Linked DNA regions of Homo sapiens: region 2 is linked to region 1. The links come from fine-mapping of genetic effects on gene expression. A gene starts in region 1. The other region holds a variant in brackets. All regions are shown on one strand. Distances are from middle to middle.

Region 1 (2,920 bases):
AACCTTAATGTTTGGAGAACACTGGATTTGGAGTAAGATGATCTAGGTTTACATCTTGATGTATCATCCATTTCAAGTGCAAATCCATGGACAAATCCATGGACATATCCTTCATTCTCTCTAAGCCTGGGTTTCCTAATCTTCTGAAAGAAGCTATTAATAACACCTGATACACTTGCTGAGTGTATTTCTGAGCCTCTAAAGAAATAATGAACATGGAAGCACTTAGCAATGTTACATAGCCTTAGTGATCTTGGGCATCCTGAGATTTCATTAAATTTCGTTCCTAGTTCCATTTTCCCTTCCTTGGGTTAGAAAAAATACATTGACCCATTCAATTCAGATAAGAATAAAGAATATACGCGTTTTCAGAATAATGAAAAGTTTCAAGTTAAGATAACACAGTCACTCTCTTCATGCAAACATGAGAGCTATGAAACACCTGTTAGAACTGATATCCCAGGTGACCGTATACAATTCATCTATGAAGCTCAATTTGTCAAGAAACAGCATAATGGTTTTATAAAATTCAGATGGGACCTGGACGGAGGGATGTGGGTGCGCATTAAATTCATAGAATATTAAAGTAGCAAATTAGCGTTAAAGTGATGAAAGTAAAGTGCAAATAAAAGACTTTAAGAATTAAGTAGTCGACTCCATGTGTTAGGAAGGAATTATTTGGTTAAAATAAATCAAATACAAAATTCAAGTGCTTAAAACAAATCACTCAAGATGTCAGTTGGAAAACATATATTCTTTCCTATTATTTCCTCTATGAAATGGAGACAGAAAATCTGTCATCAATGACTCTTGGAATTTGGTGGAAAAAGGAAAGAATCTGGAATCAGTCCCGTTGAGTTTCGTTCCAGCTTCTCCTCTTAGAAGCTATTCTCTTCTCCCTGAAGGGAGGCAACACTGTCCGTTCGCCTGACTGGCAGTGTTTTAAGGACCCATCGCGCTTGACGGGAAAGTCAGGTACAAGCTGATGCTGTTATCACCACAGGAACCAGGGGCTGAGCGGTGAAATCCAGCTCCTCCCAGCTGGAAGACGCTAGGGTGAACGGAGATAAAAGCAGTTCTCTTTACCCGAAGTTTATTTCTTTTTCATGCCACTTCAAATTTGGGTAAGAGGAAAGAGGGCCAAGGGGATTTAAGGAACCTGGATGATGAACTCCCCAGCGGTTTACAGTTCCTTCGTGATCTATTTGGTTCATTCATTCAACAAGTATTTCCGGGCTGCAGCTTGGGTGCCCAGCCTTGGGGTAGGCAGTGGGACTACAAAGAGGAAAGGACCCAGAATAGAGGGGGCACTGGACGTATAACTGCGGGACAGCGAGGTCGCGCTCGCGCGGGGTGAGGTTGGAGGCAGCCGAGGAGCCGCACAGGGCAGCGCCTGCCGCCGCCGCCGCGCCCATCCCCCACTCCGACGGCCACGAGTTCGGGCCGCGACGTCCCCATGGCAACACGCGGCGGCGCCGCGCGCGGGGAGGGAGAGGCCCAACTGCCTCGTTGGTCGCGCGGCGGGAGGGCCCAGGCGGCGGGAGCGCGGCGGCGGGTGGCGGGGCCCCTTGGGGCGGGCCTGGCGGGGCGGGAGGTGACATACGCGGTCCTGCGCCCTCGCCTCAGACCTCTCGGGCGAGCGCGGCGCAGCGCAGGTAATGGCTCCTGGCCTTCCCGGCCCCGCCTCGCCCCTGACCCTCACCCAAAGGCCAGGCTGCGCGGGTCCTCGAGCGGGACAGGGGAACCCCAAAAGGGCGGCCGCTCTGCGGGAGGCTGGGCTTGAACCGAGCGCGGGTCCTGGAGGGGCGCGTGGCGCGGGGACAGAGGCTGGGAGGGGAGGCCCGCGCTTGCAAATCCAGAGCAGAGCTGCGCCCTAAGTTAGAAGGACTGGGCTTCAGTTGTGTGGCCTTGGGCAAGCCACTTAACTTGTCTGTGCCTCAGTTTCCCTGACGTTTAAGTGAGATATTTGAGAATCTACAAAACCATTTATTGGTCTGCTCCTTCTGGTCAAGTTTTCCTTCACCATCCCTGCTCCTCTCCGCTCTGTCTCTCTTAATTCCAGGGTCTCTCTTAAAACTCTTCGATTTGGAAGTGATGTGAGCTCGAATCTTCCTCCTCTTTCTACCTCCTTGAATGTTCTTTAATTGACTTTTATTCAGTGATTCGGAGGAGTTGAAGTCCTTTTCAATACTTTCTCCAGTTATCGTCATAGATTATTTTTTAACTAAAATTGTGTTACTGAGAAAAACTTTTTTTTTTTTTTTACTTTAGGCAAATGCTAACATCCCTATTTTGTCAAGAGGTGAGCCAGTGCCCATAGAGCCATTGAAGAATTTCAAGATTTCTTTTTAAAGGCATTCTTAGCCTTTTTGTCCTAAATCTCATAGTTATAGTCATCCTAACAAAACCCAGATAGGGCCAAAGAAAGAATGTACTCAAATAAAGGCACACCTTTAGGGGAACCACAAGAATAGAAAGTTTGAGAACATCTGGCTAGAATTTCTCTTTTAATGGGAATTCTGTTTTACTCATTCTCATGTACTGAGCCGTTTGCGAACAACGTAGTACAAGCTATTATTCAATAAGTAGTAAATGGATGCTCATTTTAGTCCGTACCACATATTTCAATAAATCACTAAGTCAATATCGTAAATGCATAGGGGTCGCTAAACAAAAAACTCAAGTTTGGGAGGCCGAGGTGGGTGGATCACGAGGTCAGGAGTTCGAGACCAGCCTGATCAACATGCGAAACCCCGTCCCTACTAAAAATACAAAAATTAGCCGGGCATGGTGGCGATTGCCTGTCCCAGCTACTCAGGAGGCTGAGGTGGGAGAATCGCTAGAACCTGGGAGGCAGAGGTTGCAGTGAGCTGAGATCGTGCCTCTGCACTCCAGCCTGGGCCACAGAGCTAGACTCCGT
Region 2 (2,920 bases), 67 kb after region 1:
TTGAAAGTATATGCTTGTAGTTTAGCATTGATCAGAAAAAGACGTAAAGTGGTGCCTGCCAAAGACAGGAGAACTAAATAAGAATACCTGAATGTTATTGGTCGTACCGAAGAAGTGTTTCCCTTCATTACACTTAGAAAATATTTGTATTCACAAGACAAAATTTTAATAGAATTATGAGTTTTTATTATGAATTTTACATTTGCCTTTTATCTGCTAATTTCAGGTCTCAGATATGAAATATAAAGCTGTCAGAACTGAAAACACACATCTAAAAGGAATGATGGGAGATTTAGACCCCGGAGAATACATGGTAATATGCTGACATCATTCAATAAATTGAACAAAGAGATTACTGAATTGGTCACGATTAACCTAGACATCATTTATTGAGCACTTGCTGTGTGTTAGACATGAAGGAGTTGGGTGGTAAATTATCTTGTGCTTCAGTTGAGGTTACTTTTATCCTCAGGCTAGAACATTGGAATGTCTGGTTTTCTCCCTTGTTCTTTGGTTGGATTGGGCTCAATTCTGATCATTTCCCTCAAATATGCCAAGCATGCTATTTCCTTGCTTTTCTTCTTGCTGTTGCCTTTGAAATCCTACATCCTATGTGGCCTGATTCAAGTGCCAATCTTCCCCTCAACGAAGCCACCCCTGAAACCCCAGTCAGAATGAATGCCACATTTAGTTCGTATTTTGTTCTGACTTGTTTTGTTGCTTGTCACTTTCCCAGTGGATGGCAAGCAGAGAACCATGTCTTATTGGTGTTTGTTTCACCAGTACCTCACATCTCAGGCATAAAGTAAGTGTTCAATGAGTGTTGGTTGATTTAAAAGAGGGAGAAATAAATGAATTATTCAGGATAAGGACTACTGGTTTTAACCAATGGCTCTATAGGTTTACACAAAGGAACTTAAACAGGCTCTGTGCATCCCCTTTCAATTGTTTAATGTAACAATAGAAAATTGATTTTATATGAGAATTTTTATTTATTGAATGAATGAAATATCATTGTTAACTTGTTTATCATTTATTTGCTCTGAGAAAATTCTAAAATAATTTTCTACCATATGAGGAATGGAAATGATAAGAGATGAATATGTTAATTACTTAATTAGGCCTCAGTTTCCTTAGCTATAAAATGAGGGAGTTGAATTAGACATTCTCCATTGGCCCTCCTTAAGCTATGATACTATATTTCTGTGATATTATATACTTGTTCTCATAAT[G/T]GTCCATATTCTAGCATCAAAAGAGTGCAAACATTCTGGAAGCATTCTGTCTTCTTCTTTGGGCATGGTTAATGGATCCTGTGATTGGAGTACAGATGGATAAAAAGTAAGGCATAAGTGATTTTCCTATTTGTTACATTAAAAAAACTGTGTGTCATCTATGACATTTTTATTTCTAAATGCTGAACACACAAAAAGTTAAATCAGATCCTGCCTCCGTGAGTGCTTTTTTCACTCACAAAATGGTATTTGTATTTTTTTTACATTTCAATTTGAATGTTTTTAAGTGTATATTCTGGGTCGTCACAGCCCCCACTGAGCCTGCCTAATTCTGGCTCCTTTAGGTGTTTGACTTTGTTCACCTTTTTGTGTTTTTAAGAAATAGCAGACACAGAGATGTATAAAGAAGCTAATGATCCACAACCCTATCCCAATCCAAAGCTATCCAGTGCTAACGAATTAGTGTTTGTTGTAGCATTCTGTAACTTTTTGCTTGCATATGCACACATAAGGAGGAGATGGGTTGAATGTTCTTTTACAGAAATAAATGTATAATATATACATTATTCCAAAACTGCCTTTTGACAGTCCATGAACACCTCTACAAATCAGTAGATGAACATCCCTTTATTTTTCCTAATTTCTTAGAAAAAATATATGAGCATATAAGATATACATAATTTTTTATAAATTTAATCATAACTTACATAAGGGCAATTTTAGTGCAGTCACTTTGTTGTTGCTGCTTGCTTTACTCCTCCCTCTTTCCTCCACTCATCTACCCGCATTATACCCCCTCCTCTAGATGATACATGTTAACTACTTGGTATGTATTATTTTAAACTTTTTCAGATATATATACATATAGTCATATAGTACCTATTTGGGGATTTTATCATCTTTTTAAAGTTGAATCATAACACGTACTTCTCTGTGTCCTGTTTTTGTTCACTCAACAGTATCCCTTGGAATCTTTCCAAGGTAACTAATTTAAGCCTATTTTATTTTTATAATAGCTTGATAATATTCCATGGTGTGTATCAAAATTTATTAAACTATTTTTATACTTATTTCAAGGATAATTTATTCCACTCTGTTTCCAGAGTTTTGCCCGAATGAACAGTACTGTAAGAAAAATCCTTATACTTACACCTTGGAATAGCTTCCTAGGAGTAAAATTGCTAATTCAAAGGATATGTGTGTTTTAATTTTAATAGCTATTGTTAAATCATATGTCTACCATCTTTGTATGAGTACCTTTTAAAATTTCATTCTTGTAGGCATAGGTGTTATAGGTCTTTTTAATTTTTGTCATTCTGATGGTTATAAAGTAATTTCTCAATAGCTCTTTAATTTGCATTTCCCTGAGTACCAGGTGAACATATTTTTGTATATTCATTGACAATGTGTACCAATATCAATTAGATATATCCTTTGCCCATTTTTCTTTTGGCTTATTTGTCTTTTTCATGTCAAATTTTTTTTTTTTTTTTTGAGATGGAGTCTCACTCTGTCACCCAGGCTGGAGTGCAGCGGCATGATCTTGGCTCACTGCAGCCTCCACCTCCCGGGTTCAAGCAATTCTCCTGCCTCAGCCTCCCAAGCAGCTGGGATTACAGGCACATGCCACCATGTCCAGCTAATTTTTATATATTTTTAGTAGAGATGGGGTTTAGCCATGTTGGCCA

What was found. PIP is the estimated chance that this variant, and not a neighbour inherited with it, causes the effect.
Region 2: its variant is fine-mapped to the expression of DEUP1 in nasal epithelium (TOPMed, PIP 0.98).

The regions. Positions count from the first base shown.
Region 1 is chr11:93,329,118-93,332,037 of GRCh38, forward strand. It overlaps DEUP1 (deuterosome assembly protein 1), which reads left to right and starts at 1,625. Exons shown (of 14, transcript NM_181645.4): 1 at 1,625-1,655. RefSeq lists an enhancer at 1,264-1,765.
Region 2 is chr11:93,396,013-93,398,932 of GRCh38, forward strand. It overlaps DEUP1 (deuterosome assembly protein 1), which reads left to right. Exons shown (of 14, transcript NM_181645.4): 11 at 227-313. Among named protein-coding and RNA genes, the nearest start is that of DEUP1, 67 kb to the left of the region's middle. RefSeq lists an enhancer at 2,655-2,920. The variant G/T (reference allele first, on the strand shown) is at 1,233.